Regions from separate parts of the Homo sapiens genome. Here region 1 is linked to region 2. Evidence: fine-mapped expression QTL. A gene starts in region 2. The other region holds a variant in brackets. All regions are shown on one strand. Distances are from middle to middle.

What was found. PIP is the estimated chance that this variant, and not a neighbour inherited with it, causes the effect.
Region 1: its variant is fine-mapped to the expression of SEPTIN5 in whole blood (TOPMed, PIP above 0.99).

Annotation. Positions count from the first base shown.
Region 1 is chr22:19,681,124-19,697,230 of GRCh38, forward strand. No RefSeq gene overlaps it. Among named protein-coding and RNA genes, the nearest start is that of SEPTIN5, 25 kb to the right of the region's middle. RefSeq lists enhancers at 7,015-7,863, 10,846-11,405. The variant T/C (reference allele first, on the strand shown) is at 7,094.
Region 2 is chr22:19,704,774-19,720,880 of GRCh38, forward strand. SEPTIN5 (septin 5) reads left to right here and starts at 9,730. Exons shown (of 12, transcript NM_002688.6): 1 at 9,730-9,858; 2 at 10,008-10,018; 3 at 14,829-14,925; 4 at 15,033-15,119; 5 at 15,342-15,465; 6 at 15,547-15,681; 7 at 15,776-15,893; 8 at 15,995-16,096. The coding sequence starts at 9,816. It overlaps SEPT5-GP1BB (SEPT5-GP1BB readthrough), which reads left to right and starts at 12,447. Exons shown (of 12, transcript NR_037611.1): 1 at 12,447-14,045; 2 at 14,829-14,925; 3 at 15,033-15,119; 4 at 15,342-15,465; 5 at 15,547-15,681; 6 at 15,776-15,893; 7 at 15,995-16,096. LOC124905079 (a long non-coding RNA gene) reads right to left here and starts at 10,022. Exons shown (of 2, transcript XR_007068003.1): 1 at 9,924-10,022; 2 at 4,217-5,061. RefSeq lists enhancers at 292-1,029, 1,030-1,766, 3,872-4,379, 12,382-13,023, 13,024-13,664 and 2 more and silencers at 13,080-13,499, 13,510-13,689, 13,666-13,836, 14,241-14,420.

The DNA.
Region 1 (16,107 bases), 24 kb before region 2:
GGAGAATTGCTTGAACCTGGGAGGCGGAGGTTGCAGTGAGCCGAGGTTGTGCCACTGCACTCCAGCCTGGGTGACAGAGCAAGACTCTGTCTCAAGAAAAAAAAAAAAAATAGAGAAGACTGATGGGTGTGTTTATTACCTTGATTGTGGTGATGGTTTCATGGGTCTGTATAGACATATGTCAAAACTCATCAAACTGCCTATTTTAAATATGTAGTTTCTTGGGTATCAATTATACCTCGATAAAGCTGTTTGAAAAACAGAAAATTTAAATCAGATCCAGAGTCTCATAACACAAAAAATGTCCAGGTTTCAATAGAAAACCGCTCATTACCAGGAAGATGGTTCTCAGTATGATGCAACGGACTGAAACTGTTGAATGCAACTAAGTGAAAAGGGACAATCAGTAGATGCCAACAGTAGGTGGCAAAGACGTTAGAATTAGCTCACAAAGATTGTAAAGCAGCCATCATAAAGATGCTTCAGCAAACAACTAAGAACGTGCTTGAAACAAATGAAAAAATAGCCTCAGCAAAGAAAGAGAGAGAATATCTTAGGAAAGAAATTGAAGATATAAAGAAATTGGAATGGAAATTTTAGAAGTGAAAAATACAATAACTGAAGTATAAACTCAGTGGATGGGCTCAAGAACAGGATGAAGGGGACAGAGGAAAGAACCAGTGAACTGGAAGACAGAACAATAGAAAGTACCCAGTCTGAACAACAGAGAAAATAGACTGAAAAAGAAAAAAAAGAACAGTCTCAGGTATATGTGGGACTGCAACAAAAGACCTAATATTTGTGTCATTGGTGGTTAAGAAAGAGAGGAGAAAGCGTGCAAGGCTGATAAAGTACTCAACAACGGCTAAAACTCCCCATATTTGGCAAGAGACACAAACCTACAGATTCAGAATGAATCCCAAACAAGGAAAACCCAAAGCAATCCATGCCAAGGCGCATCACAGTGAAATTTCTAAAAACTAAGGACAAAGCAAAAATCTTGAAAATAGCCAGAGAAAGCAATACCAATACCAGTACCAATACTCTATAGGGAAAAACCATTTGCATTACTGCAGATTTCCCTTCGGGACTGATGGAGGCCGGAATGAAGTGGCACGATATTTTTCAAGTGCTGAAGGAAAGGAACCATCAGCCCAGAATCTTATATGCAGTGAAAATATCCTTCAGGAATGAAAGGGAAATCAAGACATTCTCAAATGAAGGAAAACTAAGAGAATTTGTTGCCAAAGACTTACCCAAAAACACCAGCTGAAGGAAGTTATTTAAATGGGAAGGAAATAATTAAATAAGGAAGGAAGGAAAAAAACCTAATAAGTAAAAATGTGAGTAAATACAATAGGCTTTTCTTCTCCTCTTCAATTTTGTAAGTTATGTCTGATGGCTGAAGCAAAATTTATTGCACTGCCTAATGTGATTCTAAGTGTATGTATAGGAAAGATTTAAGACAATTACATTATAAATGGGGCAGGATAATGGGATACAAAGAGAGGTAAGTTTCCTACCCTTCACTCAGACTGAAAAAATGACACCATCAGTAGATTGTGATAAGTTGTATATAATGTGGAACATCCACTAAAAGGCTGTACAAGGAGCTACATTCAAAAACACGATGGAGGGCCAGGCACAGTGGCTCACACCTATAATCTCAGCACTTTGGGAGGCTGAGGCAGAAGGATTGCTTGAGGACAGGGGTTCGAGACCAGCCTGGGCAACATAGCGAGACCCTTACTCCACAAAACATTAAAAAATTAGCCGGGCATGGAGGCACATGGCTGTGTCCTAGCTACCCAGAAGGCTGAGGTGGGAGGATTATTTAAGCCCAGGAGTTTAAGGTTACAGTGAGTCATGTCACTCCAGCCTGGGGAACAAAGTAAGACTCTGTCTCCAAAAAAAAAAAAAAAAAAATGCAAACAAAAAACAAAAACAACCCACACTATTGATCAATCAAAATGGAATTCTAAAAAATGTTTAACTGATAAGAAGTCAGGACAAAGGAAACAGAAACAAAAAACAGGGAGCAAACAGAAAACAGATCAGAATAAAATGGTACAATTGCTGGGTGCAGTGGCTCAAGCCTGTAATCCCAGCACTTTGGGAGGCTGAGGTGGGAGGATCATGAGGTCAGAAGATCAAGACCATCCTGGCTAACACGGTGAAATCCTGTCTCTACTAAAAATACAAAAAATTAGCCGGGCGTGGTGGCGGGCACCTGCAGTCCCAGCTACATGGGAGGCTGAGGCAGGAAAACGGCGTGAACTCGGGAGGTGGAGCTTGCAGTAAGCCGAGATCGCACCACTGCACTCCAGCCTGGGCGACAGAGCAAGACTCCGTCTCAAAAATAAATAAATAAATAAATAAATAAAATGGCACAATTATATCCTAACATATCAATAATTACATTAAATGTAAATGTCTTAACTCACCAATTAAAAGAGATTGGTAAGATGGATTTTAAAACATGTATCAACTATATACTATCTACAAGAAATTCACTTCAAGATGTTTCACACAGATATTAATCAAAGGAAAGCAGGAGTGGCTATATTAGTATCAAATGAGGCAGACTTCAGGGCAAAGAAACTTACCAGGGATAAGACTGACATGCAATAATAAAAGGGTCAATGCAACAAGAATGCATAGTAATCCTAAACATTTATCTAACAAACAACAGAACTGCAAAATATATACAACAAAAAGGGATAGAACTGAAAGGAGAAATAGACAAATCCACTATTGTGGTTGGATACGTCAACACTCCTCTCTCAACAATTGATAGATCAACTAGACAGAAAATCAGCAAGAAAATAGAAGCACGCAATGATATCGTCAACCAACAGGATCTAATTGACATTTATTGAACACTTTATTCCAACAGCAGATTATCCTTTCTTTCCAAGTGCCCACGAAACATATACCAATATAGACCATATTCTGGGGCACAAAACAAACCTTAACAATTTTCTAAAAATTGAAATCACATGGTGTGGGTTCTCCAAACACAATGAATTCAAACTACAAATCAACAGAAAGATAACAGAAAAACCTCCAAATACTTGAAAACTAAACCACTCATTTATAAGTAATCCATGGGAAAAAGGAGTTTCAAGAGATATTTTAAAAAATACATTGAGCTGAATGAAAATGGAGTACAAATGTCAAAACACAGAAAAAGCATTGTGGATGGGGAAAATTTATAGCATTAAACACATATATTAGAAAAGAGGAAAAGTCTCAAATCGATAAGCTCAAAAACCTCAAGAAACTAGGAAAAGAAGAGCAAAATAAACCCAAGGCAAGCAGAAGGATGAAAATAATAAAAGATAAGGGCAAAAATTAATAAAATCCTTATAAAAATAATAGAGAAAATCAATGAAAGAAAGAGCTGATTGTCTTTTTTTGTGGGGGGAGGGGGACGGAGTCTTGCTCTGTTGCCCAGGCTGGAGTGCAGTGGCGCAATCTCGGCTCACCGCAAACTCCACCTCCCAGGTTCAAGCGAGTCTCCTGCCTCAGCCTCCCGAGTAGCTGGGACTACAGGCACGCACCACCACGCCCAGCTAACTTTTGTATTTCAGTAGAGACGAGGTTTCACCATATCGGCCAGGCTGGTCTTGAACTCCTGACCTCGTAATCCTCCTGCCTCAGCCTCCCAAAGTGCTGGGATTACAGGTATGAGCCACTACACCCAGCCAAAAGCTGATTCTTTGAAAGGTCAATAAAACTGACAAAACTCTATCAATACTGACCAAAGAAAAAAAAAGACATAGATTACCAATATCAGGAATGATAACTCTACTCTATACATATAAATTTGACAACTTGGATGAAATGAACCAATTTCTTGAAAAATACAAACTACCACAACTTACCCAATATGAAAAAGATAATTTGAATAGGGAATTTAATTAATAATTTTAGAACTCCTAAAAAAAGAAATCTCCGGACTCCTATCGTTTAAATAGATAATTCTATCAAATCTTTAAAGAAAAATTTATCACCACTGTTCCAGAAAATAGGTGAGGAAAGAAGACTTTCCAATTTGTTTTATGCAGCTGGAATTACAGTGATACCAAAACCAGACAAAGATAGTAGAAAAAAAGAAAATCTCAGAAAAATATCCCTCATGAATATAGACCAAGAAAATATTTAATAAAATATTAGCAAATAGAATTCAGCACTACATACAAATAATTGTACACCATTACCAAGTGGAGTTTACTCCTGGAATGGATGACTGGTTAAACATTCAAAAAGCAAACAATGTAATCCACTGAATTCACAGGCTAACAAAGAAAAATCATATCAATTGATGCACAAAAAGCATTTGACAAAAATCGGCTGGGCATGGTGGCTCACGCCTGTAATTCCAGCACTTTGGGAGGCTGAGGAGGGTGGATCACGAGGTCAGGAGATCGAGACCATCCTGGCTAACATGGTGAAACCCCATCTCTACTAAAAATACAAAAAATTAGCCAGGCGTGGTGGCGGGTGCCTGCAGTCCCAGCTACTTGGGAGGCTGAGGCAGAAGAATGGTGTGAACCCGGGAGGCGGAGCTTGCAGTGAGCCGAGATCATGCCACTGCACTCCAGCCTGGGCGACAGAGCAAGACTCCGTCTCAAAAAAAAAAAAAGCATTTGACAAAATTCAACACTCATTCATAACAGAAATTCTAAAACTAGGAATAAAGGGGGAACTTTGTCAACTTTGTAAAGGGCACCTATAAAATACCTATAGCTAATGTGATACTCTTTTTTTTTTTGAGATGGAGTCTCACTCTGTCACCCAGGCTGGATGGAGTGCAGTGGCGTGATCTCAGCTCACTGCAAGCTCCACCTCCTGGGTTCACGCCATTCTCTTGCCTCAGCCTCCCAAGTAGCTGGGACTACAGGTGCCCACCACCACACCTGGCTAATGTTTTGTATTTTTAGTAGAGACATGGTTTCACCATGTTAGCCAGGATGGTCTCGATCTCCTGACCTTGTGATCCATCCGCCTCGGCCTCCCAAAGTGCTGGGATTACAGGCTTGAGCCACCGCGCCTGGCCAGCTAATGTGATACTTGATGGTGAAAACTAAGTTCTTTCCTTCCAGGATCCAAAGAGAAGATGCCTGCTCTCACCACTCTTACTCAGCACAGAGCTGGGAGTTCTAGCCAGTACAATAAGGCAAGAAAAGGAAATAAAAGGCACACAGACAGGAAAGGAAGAAACAAAACTGCCCTCATTTACAGATAACATGATTGTCTCTGCATAGAAAATTCCAAGGAATCTACCCTCAAAAAAGCCCTCCTAGAACTAATAAGTGAGTTTAACAAGGTCGCAAGACATAAGATAAACGATCAAAAGTCAATTCTATTTCTACATGCTAGCAACAAACACATGGGCACTGACATTAAAAATACAATACCATTTAAAATCCCTCAAAAAATGAAACACTTAGGTATAAATCTAACATATATAGAACATAGGTATGTGCTGTGCACTGGTAGCCTCAGCTACTCAGGAGGCTGAGAGGGGAGGATCACTTGAGCACAGGTGTTCAAGGCTGCAGTGAGCTATGATCTATGCCACTGGACTCCAGCCTGGGTGACAAAGTGAGACCTCATCTCTAAAAAGATTTAAAAAATTAAATTAAGTTTAAAAATGCAGAATTTGAACACTGAAAACTATACAATACTGATAGGAAAAAAAAGAATTGAAGTTTTTATTGATCCCTGCAACAACTGGCATAAATCTTCAAAGAATTATGCTAAGTGGAAAAAGCCAGGCCTGAAGGATGATATACTATATGATTCCATGTCCACTTACATAACACTGTTGAAATCAACATTCTAGAAATGGAAGACACATCAGCCATTGCTGGAGGTTAGGAAAGGGCTTCGGTGGGAGGGAGGTGCGTGTGACCGTAAAAGGGCAGCAGGAGGGAGTCTCTGGTGACAGAAATATCCCGTATCTTGACCGTACCAGTGTCAGCATCCAGGCTATGATGTCCTACCGTTGCAAGATGGTACCATTGGGTACAAGGGACCTCTCTGTGTTATTTCTTACAGCTGCCTGTGAATCTACAATGATCTCCACAGAAAAAATTCAATTAAAAAATATTTTAAAGCACATAACAGGCAGTCATGTGTAATTTGGGTCACGTAGAACAAGTCTGGATCATGAAGTCTGTGAGGCTGGTGTACACTTAACTGAGAGTGTGTCTAGCTTTAAACCGGTATCTGCATTTAAAAAAAAAAAAAAAGGCAGAGTCGGGGGCCACTCTCAGAGAGCACTATTAGGTGCTCACCGGCAGAACCCAGACATTGCATTTTCAAAGCTTTTAAGCTTTTCAGCTGCACTCTGAGGAACCGGCTATTGATCTGTGTCCTTGGTGCACAGCCCTTGCACTTCTTTCTGCCCCCACGCCCTGCGGCCCCTCTCGGCTCTGAACAGGGGCCCTGCTCTCTGGGACTCCACATCCCTGCAAAATTTGTCTCCCCTTCCCTGGGTTCCTCCCCCGGGGCTGAGCTGAGGACAAGGGCCTGGCCTCCTCCTTGGAGAACCCCACAGCACCCTGCATTTCGGCGTGGTCCATGGGCTCTTCTCAGGGGCTCCTCACGTTGTGCAAAGGGGTAAGGGAGCAGGGCCAGCTGCAGATCTCCCTCCCGCTGTGACAAGGACATCCTAGTCGAAGAGCCCGTTTATCTTCGCTCTTAAGGCCAGGCTCTCTCAGGTCATTGTTGCCAAAGAAATGAATTGCAGCACAGCTCCGCAGGTCCCTGCACAACTGGGGCAAGGGCTGGCACTGGGCCAGCGGGAACCTGTTGGGGAGGCTGCAAGGTGCTTCTCTGCATCCAAGGCTGCCACACCCTGTGCACACTGTGGAGCTGGGTGGATGGGGTGTGCTCAGGAGGGGCTCTCGGCCCTCGGCTGGGAGTCAGAGGCGTGGTGGGTGGGGCGGGGAGGGGTGTCACAGCTGCAGGGCAGCCTTGATGTCTGCACTTGGCTTTTTAATTTGTAGTCACAGCCAACAAGTGTGGAAACCGCCTCAGGACCGGCTTGAGTGGAGCGGCTGCGGGAGTTACTTCATGACTG[T/C]GGTCTCACGCTGTGTTTCGCCACCCATCCCTGCCTGGCCTGGCTTCCTTCCTTCCTCCTGGGTACGTTGGCCCTTGGCTCTCTCCTCATTAACTGGCCCCTCGGACCCCGGCTGGCCAGCTGTCTGCAGCCTCCTGGGTGACACCTTCACCCCTGCCTCCTCGGGGGTCTGCTGCCGCCACATCAATCTCCCTAACACCCTGGGCATGCCACCCCTCTGGAGACCTCCCTAGTCTCTCTCGCAGGGCCCCCAACCTGCTCAGCCCAGGCCCACTGCCCTCTCCCTGCCCGGACACGTGCTCCCGTGGCCCGGCCGTGCCTGCCCACACACCTGCCCTCTCTGAGGTTCACATGTGGCATCCAGGGGCCCTTCCCCAACAGCTCTGCCTGGTGCAGCCTCCCCCTCAGCCTCCTCTTCCCCCCGAGCAGGGTTTGCAGAGGCCCAGAGGCTGCCGGGATGAGTAGATGTTGGGATCCTGCTTACTGGGCGTGTCTTATCCCCCAGAGCAATGGCCTTGGAGGTCAGGGACCCAGCATGGCCATGCTGGCTTGGGGTTTAGGAGCTGTCTCACCAGAGCCCCGCCTCAGCCCACAGCCCCGGGCCTGTTTCCTTGAAGGCTCCCCAGAGCCCCATGCCTGGTTTTCTGGCCAGAGCCCTTGGCAGTGACCCCTGCTCTCCGCCTGCAGCTCTGGGCGTCCTCTCAGCCCCAAGCCCTGATAGGTGCCCCCTGTCTCTGTGCCTGCAGCCTTCAGGAGTGGCCCACACATTGGCTTTTATCTCTGGGCTCTCTGTCACCTCCTCTCCCTCCTGCCACCCTCTGCTCACAGGCTGCGGGTGTGGGGCATCCAGGAGCTGGCCGGTGGAAAGAGGAGCAGGTGCCCTTACGCAGTGGGGAGCAGACACACTTGTGCTGCTTTTCCCTTGGGGCTTGGGGTGGCCACTGGGGCAGGACATGAGGACAGACCAGCCCTCGTCCCCCCAGTGCAGGGGGCAGATCTCACTGCCAGGTGAAACCCTGCTGACCATCCATGTGGACCCCTCAGCTTGGCTGGATGCAGGAGGTGGTTGCACAGTTGCAGGTGGGGCATGGAGGGAGTGGAGCAGCCCCTTACCCCAACACAGGCCCCATTCCTGCTTAACCGGATGTTCCGAGGAGAAGCACAGCCCAACAGGTGTGCACAGGAAGCTCCCATCAGTGCTGTCCTGGGAAAGGCCCATCCTGAATGAAGTGTGTTGCTCAGATCCGAAGAGCGCTGCATCTTCACAGGTCAGGGTGGAAACCTCCTGGTGCACGGCCCGGGAGGGGCACCCGTGGCAGGGCCAGCCCCTGTGAGGCTGCACAGATGAGCTCGAGCAGAGAGTCTGGGGCCGGCCACATCCCACGTCCGACCCTGAGCTGGGGCCCTGGGGGAGCCCCTGTGGCTTTCGTACCAGCCACGCCTGTATGTAGAGAGCTGAGTGTCTGCTGTGGAAGACCACGAGTCACATGGCAGACATGGGCACTCGGCCCAGGCGATGCTGACCCATCCATCAGCTCCTACAGGACCACAAGCTCCCGTTGTGGTGGCCAGAGACTCCCAATGGCCACAGACCCACTCAGGGCTCTCTCTGGGGTCTTCCGGAGAAAAGGAAAGCTCAATGAGCTCCTTAAACCTTTCACTTCAAGTTGTTGCTTTTAAACATTTTGCTTCGTGGCCTTTCTTGCTCCTTCTGTAAAAATCTACATTGTGCTACCATTTTTTTTTTTTTTTGGCAAGGTGTCACTCTGCCACCCAGGCTAGAGTGCAGTGCTGTGATCATGACTCACTGTAGCCTCAAACTCCTGGGCTCAAAGGATCCTCCAGCCTCAGCCTCCCAAGTAGCTGGGACTACAGGTATATCCCACAGCATCCAGCTAATTTTTTGAAAATTTTTTTGGTAGAGATGAGGTCTTACCATGTTGGCCAGGCTGGTCTCAAACTCCTGGGCTCAAGCGATCCTCCTGTCTCGGCCTCCCAAAGTGCTGGGATTACAGGCGTGAGCCACTATGCCCACTCAACATAGTGATTTTCTAACTCCTTCATTTCTTCTCCATTTAGTAGTTGGCTTTCCACCGTAAGGAAAACTGCCCAGTCTCCCCTCTGGCTACCAGTGAAGGCTTGTGGGGTTTTCTTTGATTCGGTGAGTTATATTCAGTGGCTGTGGGGCTTGTTTGGATGCTGGCTGACCGGCCCCGTGTCCCTGTCATGGTGGAGCACGCCCTTGCTTCCTGGCACCACCGCTGCACCCGGCTCAGCCTGCACTTTAACTGCTGCAGCGCTGGAGGCAGCCACTTCCCTGAGGAGCCCTGCTTCCTTTTGTTTGTTTGTTTTTGTTTCTTTGCTTTGAGACGGAGCCTCATTCTGTTGCCCAGGCTGGAGCGCCCTGGCAGGATCATGGCTCTTTGGCTCAGCCTCCCAAGTAGCTGGGACTACAGGTCCCCAACATCATACTTGATTACATTTTTAAAATTGTTTATAGAGATGGGGTCTCATTATGTTGCCCAGGCTGGTCTCAAACTCCTGGGCTTAAGTGATCCTCCTGCCCTGGCCTCCCAAAGTGCTGGGATTATAGGCGTGAGCCACCACGCCCGACCAAGGCCAGCTTTCTTAGAACAGAGTATTTCTTCCACACTGGGGTCCAGGCATGAGTTGTGCTCACTTTACCATGGTATCATTTAGATCCTAGAAAAAAATTATTTGTGAGATTATTATAATATGTATAAATAAATATACAATTAATAATACTATTAAACATCATTGAATTGTGATTATATTATTAATATAGTTGTATTATTAATATGTGATTGTACTATTAATTTTAATTATCGTGTAATTAGTTATAATGCATCCATAATAACTCATACCATGAATTCACAGTCACTCCTAGTCCTGCCCGGCCCTGCAGGCTCCTCCTTGTGTCCGTCATTCCGTATCTGTACCTCCTTCTACAAGAGAGCCCTAACTTCTAACAGCATCACTATGTCTATCATCTATTTAGCCCTCCAAACACACAAGACACTTCCAGAATCTTCTTATTCTCCAGAGGAAAATGTTTCATCAAAACACCAGAGGCAGCCAGCATTTTGACAAGAAAACACAACAAACTTCATTTCTTTGGAAATTTGATCTAGGAAAATGTGTCTCTCTCATTTTGCTAATGGATGTCTGTTTATCAGTCAGAGACCATGAAACGACTCCTTATTTTGAATATCAGATTTTCTTCTTATTCTCAAACCTCAAAACAGCTTGGTAATAATTTATTTGGAAATTATCCGAAAGGTAAAAATAAAAACAGAAGCAAGTAATATGCCTTGTTACTGCTCCTTAATTAGGTAAGAGCCTCATTTCTTGGGCTGCTGGGATGTAAATTCTGCATAAAATGGCTGGCTTTCTTTTTAAGGCTTTGCAGCAGTGTTAACATTCGGCTGCCAACTAAGTCGATTTTAATCGCCTTTACAGGAACCTTCACTTTTTCTGTTTGTTCCATTCCACTCTTTCCTCAGTGGATAATCCCGCATGTTAAGATTCCTGTGCAGCCGAGGGAGGCGGCTTTTGGCCGGGAGCTTGTGCTCTGGGTGTGAGCGTGGCTGTTGGGAACGCCTTCTGCTCAGAATTCCGTGGTCTCAGCAGATCGTTCAGTCTAGCCACTGGGACGGGGCCGACCGCACACTGCTGGACCTCTGAGCGGAAGATGTGTGAGGTTAGGAGGGAAGGAATAAACAAAGTCGCCTTCTTCCCTGCTGACCTGCCTTGGTATGTCACCATTACTCAGCTCCTTACAGAACAGGAGCTTCAAGCTTTCACCGGACAGGCTGGCTTCTTCCCGGGAGCCCCCGCCCAAGGTGGGGCCTGGTGGGGTGGGGCCACCATCGCTGCTGGAAGCTTTAGCTCTTTTCCCTCAGCTTGGCCTCCTTTGGCAACTAATTTTTTAACTTTTTCTAATAGGTAACAGAGTCCCAAGATTCCAAGTTCCAGGAGCATGAAAGGACTCACTTGTGGAGATTCCTGCCTGGGGCTCCCACCCACCTAAGGAATGCCATCCTTGTCACCGGCTCACGGGGCAGCTCTTTGGTATCCTTCCAGGGTGGTGTGTACAAGTACAGGCACATGGATGCATGGATGCATGAGCATTTTTTTCTTTTGCCGACATATTAATACACCCGGCAGCACTCTAGGCCCATTGGCCTGCAACTTTTCATTTGATTGATTTTTAATTATTTACTTTTTTAAAAAATTGTAGTTAAATATACATGACATATATTTACCATTTGAGTCTTTTTTTTTTTTTTGAGATGGAGTCTTGCTCTATCTCCCAGGCTGGAGTGCAGTGGTGTGATCTCGGCTCACTGCAACCTCCACAGCCTGATCCTGGGTTCAAGGGATTCTCCTGCCTCAGCCTCCCGAGTAGTTGGGATTACAGGCGCCTGCCACCATGCCTGGATAATTTTTTTTTCTTTTGAGACGGAGTCTTGCTCTGTCACCCAGGCTGGAGTGCAGTGGTGCAATCTCAGCTCACTGCAAGCTCCGCCTCCCAGGTTCACGCCATTCTCCTGCCTCAGCCTCCCGAATAGCTGCGACTACAGGTGCCCGCCACCACACCGGCTAATTTTTTGTATTTTTAGTAGAGACAGGGTTTCACCGTGTTAGCCAGGATGGTCTCGATCTCCTGACCTCGTGATCAGCCTGCCTCGGCCTCCCAAAGTGCTGGGATTAAAGGCATGAGCCACTGTGCCCGGCCTAATTTTTGTATTTCTGTAGAGACAGGATTTCACCATGTTGGCTAGGCTGGTCTCAAACTCTTGACCTCAGGTGATCTGCCCTCCTCGCCCTCCCAAAGTGTTGGGATTACAGGTGTGAGCCACAGCACCCAGACCATTTTTAAGTGCACAGTTCAGTGGTATTACATACATTCACAGTGTTGTATAATCGTCACCACCATCCATCTTCAGAACTTTATGCATCTTGCAAAACTAAAACCTGCCCCCATTAAACAGCAGCCCCCCTCATCCCCTGCCCCCAACCCCTGGCAACCCCTATTCTACTGTCCGTGCCTATGAACCTCACTACTCTATGCACCTCACATACGTGGAACCACATGGTATCTGCCCTTTCGTCGCTGGCGTCTCTTAGCATAACGTCCTCAAGGTTCATCGGTGTTGGGGCACGTGTCGGGATTTTATGGTGTGTGAATGACGTCTCAGTTTAAAATGTTCTAGAGTTACCCAGTGGTGATGGATACACAACTCTGAATATGCCAACAACTTCTGACTGGTACACTTTGAGTGGGTGATTGTATGGTCTTTGAATTGTGTCAATAAAGCTGTCATTTAAAATAAAATACCAATCCGTGCTGGCACAGAGAAGGACTGGGAGACTCCGGGCAGTGCGCAGGCCCCTGTGTCTAGGAGAGTGAGGGGCCTGCTGACCTCGTCCCGGGCAGGCGTCCCAAGAGTCTAAGTTCCAGGCCTTAGGTCTCCTTACGTGGGTCTTGTGCGCATGGCTCAGGTGGAGTGGCGACCTGAACAGTCGGCACTGCTACGTGAGGACGAGTGTGGCCCCAGATGGAAGGCCTGAGCGGAGGCAGCAGGGATGAGGGTGGCATGGGTGTTGTTATGCACTGATTTATGTTCTCCCTTCCAAAACTCCACACCAAAGCCCTCACCCCCAGGACCTCCGAATGTGTATTTGGAGGTAGGGTCCTTAAGGAGGTAGTTAAGTTAAAATAAATTCATGAGGGGGTAGGTCCTGATCCCATATGACTGGTGTCCTTCTAAGAAGAAATTGGGACACAGACATGTACAGAGGGACAACTCCGGGAGGACTCAGGGAGAAGGTGCCACCCGCAAGGCAAGGAGAGAGGCCTCAATCGGAACCAGCCCTGCCCACACCTTGATCTTGGACTCCCAGCCTCCGAGACAAGACAATAAATGCCTGTGGTTAAGCCACCGGTCTGCAGTGCCTCAGGACACAGACACAGGTGGTGATGAAGCCAGGCGAGAACATTTTGAATGCATCTAGGGATAGAATCGGCAGGACTTGCTGATGGATCCAATGCAGGACAAGTAGGTGACCCTGAGGATTTTATTTGAGCAAATGGTGCAGTCACCAGTCAGACGGGGGACCCCCGGGCAAGCACAGTGCAGTTTCTTTGCAGGTGCATCCATGAAGGGTGTGATGCCTACCAGACATTCAGGAGCTGCAGCCAGGTGGGCAGCCCACAGGGGAGTCTGGGCTTCTGGGAGGAAGATGCAGAGCCGTCCTGGACAGGGCAGCAGCAGCACCAGCCTTCACTGGAGCCGGGGCCTGCAGCCTCCATTGGTGGCACACCCAGGTGAGGTCTTCACACTGCCTACACTAAAGCAAATGAACAACAAAAATCATGAGAGACCCTTGGATCAGTTTTGCACGGGAGAAGTCATTTCTTTCTTTTCTTTTTTTTTTTTTCAAGATGGGGTCTCACTCTGACACCCAGGCTGGAGTGCCGTGGCGCGATCTCAGCTCACTGCAACTTCTGCCTCCCAGGCTCAAGTGATGCTCCCACCTCAGCCTCCTGAAGCTGGAACCACAGGCATGCGCCACCACACCTAGCTGTTTGTTTGTTTGTTTTGGTAGAGACGGGGTTTCGCCGTGTTGCCCAGGCTGGTCTCAAACTCCTGAGCACAAGCGATCTGGGATTACGAGTCACTGCGCAGGGTGGGGAGAAGTCATTTCTATGCGCCTCGGGGAAGCAGTGTGGACAAGGCCCGCAGGGCCCTGCTCTTGGGCTGATTCCCTTGAGGGAGAGCCTAATGTGTAAGTGAAAAATGAAATGTGCAGGAGAGCCACTGGTCAAGCAGCAGTGCTGGGGCAGCAGGCCCTGTCGGGGATGCCAGCAGGCTCAGAGCACAGCCAGGAGGAGCCGGCCTCCAGACAAAAGCACATTTGCTAAAATAACTTTGAGAAATTTTTTAATGTTTTTCAAATTTTTACCGAAATTTAGAAAAATTTCCTCTAAACTTTGCTTAAACCGTGCTAAAAAGTGGGGACAAGCCTGAACAAAGGCCTGACACCAGCAAAGGTCAGCGAGCAGTGCAGAAGAGGCGGGAAATATTGCCAGGAGGTGGCCAGGCAAGGAGAGGCGAGGGAGGTCCCCAGAGCGTCTCCCCACCCCCGATTGGACCCAAGGCACTGGGTAGTTTGCCGAGGGCAGTGCAGCCACCTTGGGCCAGGGTCCCAGCCGCTTGCCCTCTGTCAGGAGTTGCTTTCTTTTTTTTTTTTTTTTTTTTTTGAGACGGAGTCTCGCTCTGTCACCCAGGCTGTAGTGCAGTGGCTCCATCTCGGCTCACTGCAAGCTCCGCCTCCCGGGTTCACGCGATTCTCCTGCCTCAGCCTCCCGAGTAGCTGGGACTACAGTTGCCCGCCACCACGCCCGGCTGATTTTTTGTATTTTTAGTAGAGACGGGGTTTCACCGTGTTGGCCAGGATGGTCTCCATCGCCTGACCTCGTGATCCACCCGCCTCGGCCTCCCAAAGTGCTGGGATTACAGGCGTGAGCCACCGCGCCCGGCCAGGAGTTGCTTTCTTAGGTATCTCCTTGGATCATGAGTTTCAGCGAGGAGGGGTCGTCTGCACAGGAAACACGCCCCGGCCGTTGGAGACTCGCTGCTGCCCCCACGAGGCACTGCTCCTTTGGAGTGAGCTGGCCAAGCACAACACAGAGCCTGCTCCCCAAACTGGGCGGGACAGCGCCAGGCCTACAGTCACCACGGAATGTGCTCTCTCACTCAGCGCCTCTCCTGGAGCCTGAGATGGCTCCATTCAGCACTGCAATCCTCCCAGCGAACCCCAGCCAACCCAAACAGCCTTGTTTGTGCGGGGCTCTGTTTCCCAGTCAGGATACAGGGCAGCAGGGCGGGAAGGAGCCTCAGCAGCTCCCCAGCAGCACACACCACCGGCCTGGCTTCCCTGCTCTGTTCGGGAATCTCCTCCCCCACACCCCCCGCAGCCCCCAGCCCCCCAGGAACACTTCCCCAGTGGGCTCTAGCCTCACCTACACAGCCCCCACCAGACCCCTGCGCCCGTGTCTCAGAGGCTGTCACAGAGACAACCGATGGCCCTGCCCATCATCCAGCTGGTCACGCCGATGCCTCCCCCACCTCCCGCACCACATCTGGTGCCACACAGCTGTGACCAGGTGTGACTGTACACAGGGATGGCCCCCATCCCCTCTCCACTGTCAGTGCCCTGGCCCCAGGCCTCTGCTGTGCCTTTGGGGAGTCCTCCCACTGCCCACTCTGCTGTCCAGAGACAGACAAATATACATTATCCAGTCTGTGACAGAGAGATAAAAGATTCACTAAAATTGTTTAAAAGGATGAGATTCTGCAGATTGTATTTTTCAAAGATGGCCACAACACTTCCTTCTATCCCACATGCTCTTCCAGAACCCTGATACTATCTGTGAATCTCAGTGATCTCATTCCCTTATAAACCATAGAATGCCACAGAACTGATGCTACAGAGCTCCTGAGGCTGGGGCGCAAGAGATAATGCAGCATCTGCCTTGGGTGCCAGAGCACTATGCACAGAGACTTGGGGCCACCATGCTTTCAACGTTGCCAGGCTAGCCCACCTGCACAGAGGTAGTTGCCAGGCTAGCCCACCTGCACAGAGGTGGTTGCCAGGCTAGCCCACCTGCACAGAGGTGGTTGCCAGGCTAGCCCACCTGCACAGAGGTGGTTGCCAGGCTAGCCCACCTGCACAGAGGTGGTTGCCAGGCTAGTCCACCTGCACAGAGGTGGTTGCCAAGCTAGTCCACCTGCAGAGATAGTTGCCAGGCTAGTCTACCTGCAGAGATGATATAAGACTTCATGGAAAGAAACATGTCCAGCCAGTTGCTCCAGCTCCAGCCACTGTCTGCCTGGAATGGCATGAACTACCCAGCTAAGATATCCTGAATTCCTGACCCCCAGAAACCATGATAGATAGTAAGACTAAATTGCTATTTTAAGTCA
Region 2 (16,107 bases):
GAGGTGATGCCAAGGAACATGGTGGATGCAGCTCTGCCTCCAGAGTCAGCCAGCAGCAAGAACGAGCCATGCACCATCACTGCTGCAGTGACCGGACTGCACCCCGCAGAGCTCTGATCGCCTCTCTGGGGGCTGCCGTAAGAAAACACCTGGGTGGTCTCAGACCCCAGCACTCGGGTGGCTCCTCTGAAAGAGATGTTGTTCCCGACTCCCAGCCTGTGGGTAGAGAAGGTGCCAACCCCACGAGAGTCTCCAGGCCCTGGGCCTGCTTGGACCTAATCTGCTTACAGTTCATGCAGGTTCTCTATCCAGGCCTTGCCCTCCTCCCAGCTGTTTCCTAGTCTCCTTCATCCTGCAGGAGCTGCTTTTGGTCTCACTGTACTTTGTTGAGTAGGAGGCATAGCAGCCTTGAGAGCTAGAAGGGTCCCCAGCCATCACCTGGGCCAAGTCCCGCCGTGGACAGGTGAGTGTCTACTGTTTTGTAGGGGCAGAGACTCAGCCCAGGGTCCCACGGGCTGCTAGCACTGGCGTGAGGCAGACCATTCACCTTTGCCGCTGCACGGGTCATATCCTCCCCTCTCAGCCAACGTGCTGGCCCAGCCTGGACTGGCCCAGCCCCTCTTCCCTGCTTCTGGGGTCCTGTTCACCCCACGAGCCCTCTCTCCAGCTCTTCTTGGATAAAGCCCCATGCCCAACATGGTCCCAGGCACCGGCTTTTGGGGCAGTCCTGGGATCGCCAGCAGATGGAGCTCAAGGGGGTCATGCAGACCCCACCCAGGCCTGGCTCCCAGGGGCTCCCAGGAGGGAACTTCCTACCCATTGAAATGCAAACGCTGGAATTCCAAGAAGCACTTCAGATACATACAAGTCCTGATTGTGTTTGATTCCTCCTCTGGATGGAAGGCTTCCCTCTCTGAAGTCAGACGACAAAGCAGAGGCCTGGGACTGGTGGTATAACCCAGAGACCCTGCCTGCCTGGCACTGGTGGTACAGCCTGGGACCCTGCCTGCCTGGCACCGGTGGTGTAGCCAGGGACCCTGCCTGCTTGGCACTGGCAGTGTAACCCAGGGACCCTGTCTGCCTGGCACTGGTGGTGTAGCCGGGGACCCTGCCTGTGTACCCTCTGTCCAAGTCTTGGGGTGCCCCTGTATTGTGGTTTGAATGTTTGTCTCCACAAATTCATATGGTGAAACCCTACCCTCCAGGTGATCGTACTAGAAGGTGGGGCCTTTGGGAGGTGATTAGGTCACGAGGGTGGAGCCGCATGAAAAGGATTGGTGCCCTTATAAAAGAAGACTGGAGGCCGGGCGCAGTGGCTCATGCCTGTAATCCCAACACTTTCGGAGGCTGAGGTGGGTGGATCATTTGAGGTCAGGAGTTCGAGACCAGCCTGGCCAACATGGTGAAACCCCATCTCTACTAAAAATACAAAAATTAGCTGGGCATGGTGGCAGGCACCTGTAGTCCCAGCTACTCGGGAGGCTGAGGCAGGAGAATCACTTGAACCTGGGAGGCAGAGGTTACAGTGAGCTGAGATCGTGCCACTGCACTCCAGCCTGGGAGACAAAGCAAGACTCTGTCTTAATCAATCAATCAATCAATCAATAAAAGAAGAAGCCTGGGGTCAGACACAGTGGCTCAAGCCTATAATCCCAGCACTTTGGGAGGCCCAGGTGGGAGGATCACTTGAGCCCAGGAGTTCAAGACCAGCATGGGCTACAAAGAGAGATCTCGTCTCTACAAAAAATATTTTAAAAATTAGCCAGATGTGGTGGTGTGTGTCTGTAGTCCCAGCTACTCCGGAAGTTGAGATGGGAAGATTCCTTGAGCCAGGGAGATTGAGGCTGTAGTGAGCTGTGATTGGGCCACTGCACTCCAGCCTGGGCAACAAAGTGAGACTCTGCCACTACAAAAATAAAAATAAATAATAACAATAATAATAAAAGAGGGTCCGAGAGATACCCTTCACCCCTTCCACCATGTGAAATTATAGAGAAAATATGATCATCTATGAAGTGGGCTCCACTCTCTCCAGACGCCAAATCTGCTGGTGCCTCGATCTTGGACTTCCAGCCTCCAGAGCCGTGAGAAATAAATGTTTATTGCTTAAGCCCTGCAGTCTAAGGAGTTGTGTCATAGCAGCCCAAACAGACTATGACACCCTGTATTCGTTTGCTGAGGTTGCTGCAACAAGGTCCCACCAACTGGGTTGCTTAAATGAGGCGGTAATGATGGAGGGCGTTCAGCCTGCACTCAGAAAGGTCTTTGCAGATGGCTGGAGGCCCTGGAGCCTGGAAGGAGGTGGATCTCAGGAATTTCACCCACACACACACACATATCTCTGGCCAAATCAAGTTCTTTGCCCATTTTTGAATCAGACTGTCTTGTTGATGATGATAGTAGGCTCTCTTTGTGATTCTCAAAAATAACCTCGAGGATCAGGGCAGCCAAGACAGTCCCCTGAGGCACAAGTGGGGCATGGGCCCCTGCCCCATGCTGCAAGATGACTGGGCCCTGGCATGGGACAGGGGCTTCTGAGGATGCAGGGGTCTGTAGTTGGACCCTTGGTTTGACCAGTGTCTGTCACAGTGTCTGTCTGGGAGTCACGGGCCCAGACCCTGGGCCAGAGGTCGGGCAAGGCTTTGCAGGCTGTTTTGGTAGCAAGGCCCAAACCTGGCCAATTGCATGCTGGCCCTGCACCAGAAGAAGGAGACCTGCCCAACAAGGCCCTCACCCAGGCCGAGCCCCTGTGCATCAGCCCTGCCTCCCTCACCCCACCTGCCGTGGCCAGCACCTGCCCAGGGCCCCTCTGCTGGGCTCCAGGTACTCCCCCGAACTCTAAGCCAGCACTCGAGGCCCAGCCCCGCTTTCCTGGCTATGCAGGCTTGTGGCATGTTGATCCCCCAACGTGAAGCCCCAAGGAAAGAGGGTCTCTGCCACCACTCCGGGTGTATGGGGTCTTCTGATCTGTGCCGCTGTGAGATTTGCGGCTGGCAGCTGCAGTGCAGACCAGAGGTACGAGTCCTGCCCTCACCAGTGCCCTCCGCCTGCACCCCTTGCTGGTTGGGAAGTCCTAGAGGGAGGACTGGGTGGCACGCTGGCACTGTCCTGCCAAGAGGGCCACACGCAGCTGCTCACCAGGCGAGAGGGGGCAGGACTCACTCAAGACGGGCCTGCAGCTGAATGGCTGTGAAGATCCCTGGCTGCAGAACGAGCCCTTCGGCAAGAGCCCCGGGGAGGGGACAGAGTAACTCCTTTGCCCTGCAAGGCCCCGCTTGGGTCTCCCCAGGTTCAGCTCCCAGGTGCACCTGATCATGCTTCCTTCTTTGGCTGAAACCTGCTCGGCCACCTCTGAGGGGATGCTGGTCAAAGCATGCAGGGTTGAGGGCTGAGCCTCGTACCTCCTGCCTGCTTTTCCGGTGAGGACAAGGGGCCCCTCCTTTCCTGCAAAAGCAGCCCCTGTCTTAGGGGCTCTGTCTCCTGCTGCTCCCCCATCTCTAGGGGACCCTAAAAGCCTCCACCACTTTAAAGGCAGCCTTTGGAACAAGGAGGGGCAGGAATCCACTTCAGTCCAGGACGTGACAGCCGGCTGGCCACTGGCCACGGAGGTCCAGCGACATGCTTTCCCCAGTCAAGTGGAAGGACTTTGGCGGCATCCTGGTACAGGGTGTGTCTGTCTCCACCAACGGGGAATCCCCTGCTCAGGGCTGATCATGGCTCCAGCCTACAATGGGTGCAACACATGCTTGATGGGAAATGGGGTCCAACCTGGGGCAAATGAGGAGCAGGGCAGAGCTGCCACCACGCCCTGCAAGTGGGAGCAGGAGCCCTCACGCAGGCTGGCCCCGCTCTGCCAATGGCCCTGGCCATGGCACCCGGGGATGGCAGCTCCTCACCCTCCTGACCCACACCATCCGCCCCCGCAGCAATGTGTGCTGTGCATTCTGGGGCAGGCAGAGCTCTGGCTGTCCTCCATGGGAGAGGCGGCCTCTGTGGCGTTCAGTCCGGGGGGCTGGAGAGGACACAATGGCAGGGAATGAGCTGAGACTGGGGTCCTCATCCTCACCCAGGTATGGCCATCACCTGAGGCCTCGAAACCAGGTGATGGGCCGCCAAGTTGAGGGCTCTGGCAACCACCTTCCCCGTGGGAGCCTGGGTGTGCAACAGGCAGTGCATTTGCACGCAGCACCAGGGTCCAGGGAACAGAGGTCCTGAAGACGGGACAGTAGGGTCCTGTTTATTCCAGAGTGATTTTCAGATCTCTCTTGCCTGACTGGGAGGTAGATGCAGTGGGGAGCTGGAGCCAGTCCCTGGAGCCCAGCGCTGAGCTCTTTGTGATGGAGGGGTGGGGTGAGCCGCAGGATCTAGGTCACCGTGCTCTGGCCCTGCTCTCTGCCTTTCGCAAGCGCTTGCTCCCGTGGGATGTTTGTCATGCTTCCATGCATGACACAGGAGAATATCAACATTGGTGCCATTTCACATCTCTTCATTCATCTGCTATTCTTCCACCTTCAGCTTCTCATAAAATCACAGAACTGCAGTGAGGACCTCTGCCTGCCGGGACAGCCTGGGGATGGTCCCGTGCAGCCCCCTCAGGCAGCATCCCTGTGGAGGGTTCCCCTCCGCCCCCTACCGTGGGGAGCTCTTCCCAGCTGAGTCACACTGCACGCCTGGTCCCTACCCTGGGCTGCTCTCTGTGTTATCTTGCAGGCGCCGTCCCAGATCCTTCAGGGGACTCTGAAGGCCCATCAGATGTGGCTGCAGACCCACCTCCCTCAGACCCTCAGCTCTGGATCCAGGCTGGCTCCCTGCCGTGGAGCACAGGCGCCCTTTGTAGCACTCACTCCAGCTGCCCAGGGAATCGGGGACTTGGTGTGGACTGAGACTCAGCCCCCTTGAAGCCCTATTCTGTCCACCGCTGCAAGACATAGGCGGCTTTAAGCAGGACCAGGCCGCACCCTCCAGGCAGAGACAGCTGCTGTGGGTTCTGTGCTCTTCTAATGGGCATGTCTTCCCATCGGTGATGAGGACTGATTTGTGCAGTGACCCCCTTACATTTTTCTGAAAAGGAGATCAAGGAAAACATTCTTCAGTAGAATCCTCACTGTGCACACACTTCCCCTTGTGCTCGGTGACAGCCACTGCCTTTGGGAGCAGGGAGGACGCCCCAGAACCTCCTGGTCTCCGCACACCCCCCTGAGCTGGGCTGAGCACACAAGCACCCCTCTGCAGACAGTAGAGGTTTTGGGATTCAGAATATGCAGTCTGAAGCTCCCCAGAGCCTGGCTCTTTAGTCAGGCCCTCCTTGCCCGCCCTGTGAATCCACGCCTAGGAGCCTGTGCCCCCACCCAGCAGGAGCTGATGCTGCTGAGCTTCCCAGGTGCCAGACAGGGGCTGAGTGTGGGGGCCAGGGAGCCAGTCGGGAGTCTGCTGCCTGGCAGGCCATGTCCTGCAGAAGAGAGGCCAGCATAGGGCACGGTGGGCCTGGAGGGGCTGGAGACAGTGCTGCTGGGTCGGCAGAGCTAGAGAAGGGCAGCCCAGGCAGGGGGCACACTAGTGCCAAGGTGCAGGGGCATGAAGCTGCAGGTCACACGGCCTCCCTCGGAGCCCCCAGGTACTGGGGGTGGGTTCAAATCTCACAGGGTTGGCGGGCGAGGGCTTCAGGAACAGCAGGGACAGGAGCATGAGAGCAGTAGAAAAATGCAGGGGTCAGGAGGATCATCTGGGACCCACCAGGTTGCTGGTGAATTCAGGGGATAGAAGGGATGTGAGCTCAGGCCTCGAGCAGCTGCCTGATTGGGACAGCCCCTGGCTGGGCCGCGACCAGGTCACAGCACTTTGCAGGAGTCAGGCCTGGGCTCCACGGTCGTGGGTTCTAGTCTCGGCTGTTTAGTCTCAAGCAGATCTCCACCGCGCCCTGACCTCCACTTCCTGCGTCTACTCAGGGTGAAAAAACACCCCATTCCCAGCACAGGTCAGGGTTGCCCGAGTTGATCATGCAGGTAGGCCTGTGGGGCTCTCAGGTGCCTGACACCCTGCATGCATCTTGGCCTCTTCCCTCATCCTCAGCCTCAGATGGACTGAGCCATCTGGAACCTGTCAGTGGTGGCCTCAGCCCTAACTGCAGATGACAGGCTTGGGAGTGTGGCGACATGTGTCACCTGGAGCAAACTGCTCCCCCTCTGAAGCCTGTCACCCACAAGACCTGCTCCCAAGGGCCAATGGCAGGTGCCTTATTCTTTCGTCGCCATCACCGTTGCCACCTCCCCACCAGCTCCATCCTTCTCCGGGTCCCAGCCCTGGGGCGCTCACTCCCCTGTGTGCTGAGGGAGGCCCAGCATGGTTCAAATGCAGCCTCTGGAGAATTTCTTCACTAAGAGGCTTTTTCTGAAAAGAGTCAAGCTATTTGTAGCCCAAGTTGGTTGAACAGATTTTTCTTGGTGTAGCTTATTTTTTTATTCATTAACTTCTTTTCCTTATGAATTAAAAAATAGCATTTTTTTTTCCACAAAGGAGTGCTTTATTTACTTCTTTTTGTACCACAGCCAGCGCTTCCTCTGCCTGCTGGGGAAAGTGGATGCACACACCCACTTTGGCAGGCAGTTTTCTTTCAAGCCATGGCATCTTGGAGAGGTAAGTGTGTGTGTTCAGACCACTGCCCTGTGGCTCCAGCCCCCCTGATATCAGCCACAGCCCCAAGGCTTGGGTGTTGTTTGTTTGTTTTTTCATTTTTTTTGAGACAAGGTCTCACTCTGTTGCCCAGGCTGGAGTGCAGTGGCACCATCACGGCTCACTGCATGCAGCCTCAAACTCCCAGGCTCAAGTGAGCCTCTGGCCTCAGCCTCCTGAGTAGCTGAGACTACAGACTCATGCCACCACAGCCAGTTTTTTTTTTTTAATTTTTAATTTTTATAGAAACGGGGTCTCACATTCTTGCCCAGACTGGTCTCAAACTCTTGGCCTCAAGTCATCCTCCCACCTTGGCCACCGAAAGTGCTACAATGATAGGCGTGAGCCACCAGGCCTGCCTGGTTGGCTTTTTGGTGAACAGGAGCATAATAAGGGTTTCACTGGGCTGTCAGCCTCCATTGTGGTGGCCAGTATCTCAAAGCCTCACCTGGCAGAACTGGAGACGCGTCTGCTGACCGATGCCCTCATGACCCATTTTCCTGACTTCAGAAATGTCCCATGCAGACACTATGCCATCCAGCAGGCCTCCCAGCTAGACAGGGTGCAGCCTCGATGTGTCTGTGGAGGGACTCGGGCTGTCCCTGCACTCACAGTCATGGTGACCAAAGTCCCAGAGTAAGGGAGCAGATGCCGCTTCCCCCTTCCAGCCCAGGCATTTTACATGAGGCGCTGACCCAGGACCACCCTTGACTTCACTCTTCCAAGGAGTGGCTCCCAGTCCTATATATTCCATCAGCCTCCAGGCTGGCTGTCCCTTAAACACTGGTCTCCAATCTAACTGCATTTCTGTAAGTAATCTTTTGGGACAGACTTTTTTAAAAAAGATCATGTTTATGCCGTATTCCTCATCTTTCTTGTCTTCTATCTCCAGATTTGTTTTAAAACCTATTACTCCTGTATACATGTGCCTCCCACCCTTTGAGCTATGCCCTTGACCTGCTATGCACTTGTCTCAAGGCCAAGTTCAAACCCCCTAACCCAAGGCTGTCCAGAGCTGCCCTGCCACCTGAGCCATGGGGAGGGGCGCTGAGCTGGTGCCTTTCACAGGCTGCCTGCCTCCCCCTGGGCAGGGCTCCTGTCTCTCCTCCTTTGTCTCCACAAGCACAGGCTTGCATGGGTCAGCACGTGGTGAACAGCCAACCATCATTTTCCAATTCTTTCCAAAAAGTCCTGTCTATGCTCAGAAGTCCTGCCTGGCCCTTTGAGTGCCCCTACCCCCACACACACATTCTTTTTTTTTTTTTTTTTTTTTTTTTTTTGAGACGGAGTCTGGCTCTTTGGCTCAGGCTGGAGTGGAGTGCAGTGGTGCGATCTCGGCTCACTGCAACCTCCGCCTTCTGAGTTCAAGTGATTCTCCTGCCTCAGTCTCCTGAATAGCTGGGACTACAGGCATGTGCCACCATGCCTAGCTAATTTTTTGTATTTTTAATAGACGGGGTTTCACCGTGTTAGCCAGGATGGTCTTGATCTCCTGACCTCAACACACATTTCTTTATCGAAATTCCAAATTCTCCAAAGCTCAGAAACATAAAGGTTTTTCAAAACTCAGTGGCAAAGCTGGACCTGAACGATGCGCCATCACTTACTGTCTTTATTTCTTCCAGTTCACCTGAATACATATGTTTTGCCCCGAAAATATAAATGGGTCTGATTATGAGGAGCAGCCCCAGGTTCCAAAGAGGTGCCACATAATGTATGATGTATACAAAAAAGCCTGAGTTCCAAACACATCTTGGATGAGAGGTTGGGACTGTGGGGGATCCCTACACTGGTTAGAGTTCTAGACCCAGAGCAGGGTTATGGTCAACGGCGCTCTGGCCACAGAATGCAGCAGAGCAAGGACTGTGGAACAAAGACGCGGCTTACATGAATTTTTCACTTACCGTGCTGGGTGCTGGTGATTCAGAGATGGAAAGGCCCTAGCGACACCCCCCTCCACCCAGGGAGCCCACGGGCCAGCAGAGGGACCAAGGGGCACAGGACGGGTGGGGAGCAGAGGCGGATTCCCTGGCTGTGGAGGTACTGTCTATACGGGGTGCAGGAGACATCTCCATACAAGGGGGCCCTCACCTGGGGAGGTGGTGACCGCAAGCCTGACAGCCCCAAAGCCTTCAGAGATGCCGCCTGGGGACACTTTGGGAAAGTCCAGGCGGAGGACACCTGGGAATGTGATAGTGACACAAATGACCGGAGAGACTTGCTCTCAGTCACTGAGTCTGGCTGACTCACTGAAGATTAGGGCCTGAACTTCCCCCTCTGTAAATGGGGTGCAGGCCCTGGCCCTGCCTTCACAGTGCCCCTCGGTCCCCTACAAGCCTTCTCCGCAGGGTGGGATCGGGTCTGCCTGGAGCATCCCCACAGCCTATGGGTCAGCAGAGAAGCAGGCGCAGAGCTGGGGTGAGACGGTCAGGGCCGGTCCTGCCAGACACCTCAGATCACTCCTCTTCACAAATAATCCCATTTTACAGCCCAGGAAGAGAGAGGCCGGACCACTGCCCAAAAGCCTGTGGCCTACAGCCTGCCAGGTGCGTCTGCTCGCAGAGCAGGTCTGCGCAGCACCGAGCGGTCAGCAGGGGCAATGCTGGGCACTGGCCAGCCGCGCCAGGACCATCCCTGCTGACCTCGGCGGGGTGGGGCGGAGCGTGCAGGGTCTGGCCCGGAAAGCCAGGGCAGGCTTTAGAGAAGGGCCACCGGACGGATGGTCCGAGGACCGGCATGGACCCGGGTCCCAGCGAGGGCGGGGGGAGCGTAAGGCTGGGCCTGGGCTGCGGCACCGGGGAGGTGGCGGGGAGGAGGCCGGCAGGAACAGCCGTGCAGGGCGGGGGCGGCGCGGGTCTGGTCGGGTGACCCCGGGCGCGGCCAGGGCTGTAGGAGGCGAGGGCGTCGCCCCGAGGCCGTGGTCTCGGGTCCATGGTGGGGGACCTGGGTCCCCGCCCCCCCGGGCCGCCCTGGGTCGCGCGTGGGCGCGGCGGGCGCCGATTGGCTGCCGGGCGCGCGGGCGGAGCGGGCGGCGGCGGCGGCGGCGCGGAGGGGCCGCTCACCCCGCAGCCCGGCCTCGGCCTCCGCCGCTTGTCGTCGCGCCCCGCCCGCGAGCCCGCCCCGCACGTCCCCCGCCGGCGGCCACCATGAGCACAGGCCTGCGGTACAAGAGCAAGCTGGCGACCCCAGGTGAGCCCAGCGCCTGCCCGCGTGCCCGCGCGCGCCTTTGTCCCCGCCGCCCGCGCGCCTCTCACCGTGTCTCTCCGTCTCTCCCCCGCCCGCCGGCCCGGACCCGCTCGGAACCGGACCCGGACTCGACCCCGACCCCGACCCCGCAGAGGACAAGCAGGTACGTGCGCAGCGCCGCTCCCCCGCCGGGAGACCCGGCCGGCTGTCACCCATTGTGACACTAGCGCCTTGGGCGCCCAGGCGCGACCCCGCCCCCGCCGGCCCTCACCCAGCCCTGTCGCGATCACCGATTGTCAGCCGGGCAGTGCCGCCGCGCCTGGGGCTTCAGAGGAGAGGAGTGGGGGCCCTGGTCCCCGGACCCGCACAGCAGGGACCCTGCGCCCCTCCCCAGGATGGGGGGATGGGCAGAGTGTCCCCCTCCCACAGGGCCAGTGCCAGCATCTCCTGCTGACCTGGCCTGTAGGCCATGAGCTGGGGGTCCTGGGTGAGGCCATGGTCGTGGCAGGCCACGCTGGGGGAGGGGAGTCAGGCTCCATCAGCCAGCACAGTCCCTGAACAGCCCTACAGCAGAGGGCCTGTGGTCACCACCCACCTCCCCTGCACCTTCATGCCCCTTTCCCTCCCCATACACAAATTTGAGTGTTCAGGTCTGCAACAGGGACTCTTCCCCAGATTGGGAACCCCCAGGGTCTGGTCTGAGTCATTCTGGGTGCCCAGATGGGTCCTGGGACCCTGTGGGTACAAATAGGCTTGTGGCTTCTCAAAAGGGTTGGCCCCACCCTCCAGGAAAGCAAGACTGGACAGGAGGCTGGTCTAGGCACCTGGGTGAAACCCAGCCGAGCTCAGGGTTAAACAATGCTGTGAGGCCCCTGGGGTGGGGCGGGGGCTGACAACCAGGTGGGCTGGGGGGGCTGGGGAAAGCCTGCTGGTGTCCTCTCTGGCTTGAGCTCAGCCATCTTTGGAGGAAAAAAGAAGAGCCCAATTCTGGCACCAGGGTGGCACTGGCAGCCCCCATCAGGGATGGAGTTTCTCAGGAGCCATGGATGCTGAGTGGAACTCCAGAGTCCTGGCCCAGGGTGCAGCAGGCAGGGCAGGAGGGCGGGCAGGGGGGCCAGGAGCTGGGGGAGTCACTGGCTGACCAGTGCCATTCTCCTGGAAGGGACACACCCCACCCAGAGGTGGATGAGGCTCTCTGGGAGGGGCCCCTTGGGGAGCCAGGCTGGGAGCTGCCTCCCCATCACAGCAGGTCAGACAAAGCCTGAGATGCAGGGACACATGCGTCAGGCTACTGTTTGAGGGAAATGGAAGGAACTGAGGCTGGGAAAGCCAGGAGGCCAGGCCCCTGAGGCTTCTCCTGTGCCTGCAGGTGTCCCCAGCTTGACCCAAGGGCACTCTGAGACCCTGGGCTCCAGCCACTGCTGTTGGGTGCAGCCAGGTTCTCTTGCCCATTACTGCAGGGTGGGGACCCCCTCCTGCTGAGGTGCCCATCGTTTGAGGTCAACCGGGAGTCCACCTCACCCCATCCCAGGCCTCCCAGGCCTCCAAGCCCAGAGGAAGAAGGCACTGTGTGGCCAAGGAAGGGAGCCCCGGAGCAGGAGCCAGGCCAGGTGTCTGGGTGACCAGTGGGTCTGGGGGAGCTGGAAGCACATGGCAGCTTCCCTGCTACCACCGTTGCTGAGCCTCAGCCTGTCCAAGCATTCTTTTTGCTCTTTGAAAGGGGGCTGTAGAGGCATTGGGGGAGTTCCGTCACTACGCTCTGTGCCCCCACCTCCTCACAGGCAGCACCGGTGATCTCTTGGCCCTGGCTGCTGCTCCCAGAGCTGACTCGGGTGATTCTAAGAATGGAAGTGCCAGAGAGGCTCAGGCATTGGGAGGAGATGGGCGCAGCTGTGTCATATGGCTCAGGAAGCCCTGGGAGTATCTTTTGTCACTTGGGGACCAGAGAAAGGGGGTGGCAGGTACGGCCCCTTCCTTGAGGCTCCCCCAGGGAATCCACAGGCCCTGACTGGGCCCCAGTGGGTGGCAGGGCAGGTGGGTTGAACGCTGAGAGTGAGATTCTTGCCCTCCTGACCTGGGCCTCCCCAGAGGCTGTGCCTTACCAATGGGGAAACTGAGGCAGGCAGTCTGAGAGCCACACACTCTGTTAGACACCTCCTAGCCTGAGGCCTAGGCCCAGGGCTGTCTGTCTTCCTGGAGATGCCCTGGGCCTGAGATGCCAGCCTGTCTGGGTGGGTGCTGGGCTTCGAGGTGTGGACCCTCAGTTGGAAACTGGGTGGGACTCAGCCTAGAGGCTTCCTGCAGGTCAGGGCCATGGAAGGCTGGGGCCAGTGAGGAGGCTTTCTGGCAGCAAGGACTGAGGGATGCACTGGTAGAGCTGGGGGGCCTGGAGCTGCCCCCTTTCCCTGGGATGAAAGGCTCTCCTGTTCCCAGCTGTGGGCCTGCCCCTCCTCCCCAGGTGCCAGTGGTCCAGGCCCCACAACAGGACCAGGGCCTGGACAGGAAGTGGAGGAGGTCTCTCAGCCAGGAGAGCCTAAGGGAGGGCTGGTGGCGGGTGGGGTGGGGTGGGGTTGGGGCCTCCAGCTTCTAATGTTCTAATGTGCAGGGGCTTGGCCTGACCAGTCCTACCCTGGAACCTTTCCAGGCCCCATGTCCTGCTCCGCTGGGCTTGCCTGTTGGGATTCTACTGGGGTCATGGAGGTGGGTGGCCCACAGAGCGGAGCTCGGGAGACCCCCGCAGTCCCTGGAGTAGCCACATGGGAGGGAGGCCCGGCTGGCAGGAGCTCCCAGTCCCTCCAATCCTGTGGGTCAGAGCTGGTGAGGATGCTCAGAGGGCAAGGGAATGTCCACAGAAGCACGTGGGAGATGGGTCCCATCCCACCCCCACCCCTGTCTCTGAGGGCAGGGCCACCTGAGGGCTGCAGGGCAGCGCATGGGTGGCCGGCGTTTATTCAGCAGGCTGGCGGGGGCTTCCAAGTTTTGCAGGGACCTCCAGTACTCCGGCAGCCTGCACCCTTCCTTTCCCTTCCCTTCCCTTCTGTCCACCCTAAGCCTCCTAGGGGACAGGCAGGCTGGACTTCAGAAAAGGTGGGCTCTGCCCTCCTCCGGTCCCCCGAATGTCTTGGGAAAGAGTCCACCAAACACACATGCACACACCCGCGCACACGCACATACCCAATGCATGCACACACGTACACACACACGCATACACGCATGTATACACGCGCACACACGCAGGCATTACACACACACACATTACACACACACACCCGCACGGACGCGCACACACAAACGCGCGCACGCACGCACGCACGCACGGGGGAGGTCAGCCCCAAGCAGGGCTGGGGAGGGGTGCAGGGCGCGGCGTGTCTGTGGGCACTTGGGGCGTCGAGACGCCGCCGGGAGGTTTTCGGGCAAGTCTGCGAGAAGACGGCGGGCCCTGAACTGGGCGGGTACCCGCGCTGTTGCGCGTGGGTCCCGGGAGCGGCCTCCGGCGCCCTCTGGCGGGCGGAAGCCGCGCAGCACCTCTTGGGGGCGGGACGCGCGGTGGCTACCGACTCCCGGCCCGCCCCGGCCCGCGTGCAGGACCCGGTCGTCCCCTCCTGCTGTCCTGGAGCCCGGACTGAGGCCCCGGGGGCGCGGCAGGGCTCCCGGTCCACGCGAGCCATGGCCCGACCGCGCCTCGGCTCAGCCCTGCCCTCCGCAGCCGCTTTCGGGTGGCTCCGCCCGCGGCCCAATTTCCAGGCGACCGTTTCCCGGCGACGGCGGGCGGGGCCGTCTCTGCCGCCCCCCGCCGCGCGCTCCGCGGGCGCCTGCGACGCCCCGCCTCTGGCTCGGGTGCGGGAGCGGGGCCTGCCCGGACTGCGACGCCGCCACAGCTTGGGGCCAGTTCGCCCAGTCAGGGGGATGGCTCGGTCGGCCTCGGGGGTCGACGATCCCCCGGGTAGGCGACGTGCCCTGTCCAGGCCTCACTTCCCGCGTCCGCAAAACGGGGTGGACAACGCAGCCTAAGGCAGAGCCGCGCCAAGGTCCCTCGCTGTCGCCGGGCTCTGGCGGCCTGACCGGGCCTGGGGTCCGAGCGTGCCCCCGGGCCTGGGGGGGTCGCCGCGATGGACTCGCTGGCAGCGCCCCAGGACCGCCTGGTGGAGCAGCTGCTGTCGCCGCGGACCCAGGCCCAGAGGCGGCTCAAGGTGCGTGTGTGGAGAGGGCGGAACGTGGGTCTGTGACCCCGCGGGCTCCGGGACTCGGCATGGGGTCCCCGTCCCCGCGCGCCACGGCCCGCCAGCGCCTAGGCTCAGCCCTTCCCTCCGCAGCGGCCTCGCAGGTCCGCGGCCCCACGGTGGGGCGACGTGCCCTGTCCAGGCCTCACCTCACGCGACTCCAAAACGCGGCGGAGAATGCGGCCGTGGGACCCCTCCAGGGGCCCCAAGGGTCTGCGGGGGCTGGGCGCCTGGGCGCGCGGGCGGGGGAGGCTCGGCGCCGCGGTCTATAAATAGGCGCTGCTCCGCCACCGCCGCTGCCGCCGCCCCCGCGGCTGGATCCGGGCCAGGTGGGGCCTCCCGCCCCCTGGCACTCTCCGGAGGGGTGAGTGTCGAGGCCCCCAGCTTCTCCGGCTTATGGAGGGCCTTGAGTGTGTCCCAGGGGTCCCAATCCTGCTGCCCTCTGCCCGAGGAGGGAGGACATCGCCTGTGCCTGCTGCGGCCTGACATCTCCCCACGGAATAAATACAGTGTCGGTCCCTGCAGAGCCCTCCCTGGGATTGGGGCCAGGGGTGCCTTCTCCTGCCACCACCTCGCCTGCCTTCTTATCTCCAGGCTTTTGCCCACGGGCCCTCCCCTTATTTTTGCCAACGAAATGCCCCACCCTGGGAACCGTACCCTCTGCTGTCTCCTCATACCGCATTTGGTAAGAGACAGGGTATTGGGCTTCTGGAGAAACCTTTGTGTCCCTACCCTGTTCCATCCTGTCCCCAGGACATTGACAAGCAGTACGTGGGCTTCGCCACACTGCCCAACCAGGTGCACCGCAAGTCGGTGAAGAAAGGCTTTGACTTCACACTCATGGTGGCTGGTGAGTGGGCCAGGCTCCTCGGGGGAGTGGCTGGGGTCACTGGCCAGCCAAGCTCTGTCGTTGGAGCCCCAGACCTAACGCAGCTCCTTCTCTGTACCTGTGTGCAGGTGAGTCAGGCCTGGGGAAGTCCACACTGGTCCACAGCCTCTTCCTGACAGACTTGTACAAGGACCGGAAGCTGCTCAGTGCTGAGGGTGAGTGGCCCCCAGGAGGCCCTGGCACTGATCCCCAGTCCCCTTCCATGGGACCTCTCCAAGGACTCCCTTTCAGGTCCAGCTCCCACTGTTCTGTTCTCGCGGTGTGGGTCCCCTGGGGGTAGGGCCAAGGCACCAAGATGGATGAGGACGAGGGTCCTGGCTGCCAAGGGTGAGGGGCTGAGGGTTGGAGAGGCCCTTCCAGTGGCCCCTTCCCCGTAGAGCGCATCAGCCAGACGGTAGAGATTCTAAAACACACGGTGGACATTGAGGAGAAGGGAGTCAAGCTGAAGCTCACCATCGTGGACACGCCGGGATTCGGGGACGCTGTCAACAACACCGAGTGGTGAGTGAGGCCTGCTGAGAAAGGCCTTGCCTAGGCGGCCACAGCACTCGAGGCCTGGCCTCACCTCCCTCCTGCCCACAGCTGGAAGCCCATCACCGACTATGTGGACCAGCAGTTTGAGCAGTACTTCCGTGATGAGAGCGGCCTCAACCGAAAGAACATCCAAGACAACCGAGTGCACTGCTGCCTATACTTCATCTCCCCCTTCGGGCATGGGTGTGTGGCTGTCCTGGGGCCAGGCTCGGGAGTGCAGCCCCTACAATATGGCCCCCTGGCTGTGCCTATGCCCACCCTTGGCTGCTCTCGGCAGGCTGCGGCCAGTGGATGTGGGTTTCATGAAGGCATTGCATGAGAAGGTCAACATCGTGCCTCTCATCGCCAAAGCTGACTGTCTTGTCCCCAGTGAGATCCGGAAGCTGAAGGAGCGGGTGAGCCTGCCGTCGCACAGGGGCCTGGCCAGGGCCCTGGGGCTGAGAGTACCAGGGGGACTTGTCTGGCCTCAAATCTGATGGTCCTTGCCCCACCACAGATCCGGGAGGAGATTGACAAGTTTGGGATCCATGTATACCAGTTCCCTGAGTGTGACTCGGACGAGGATGAGGACTTCAAGCAGCAGGACCGGGAACTGAAGGTGAACATGCA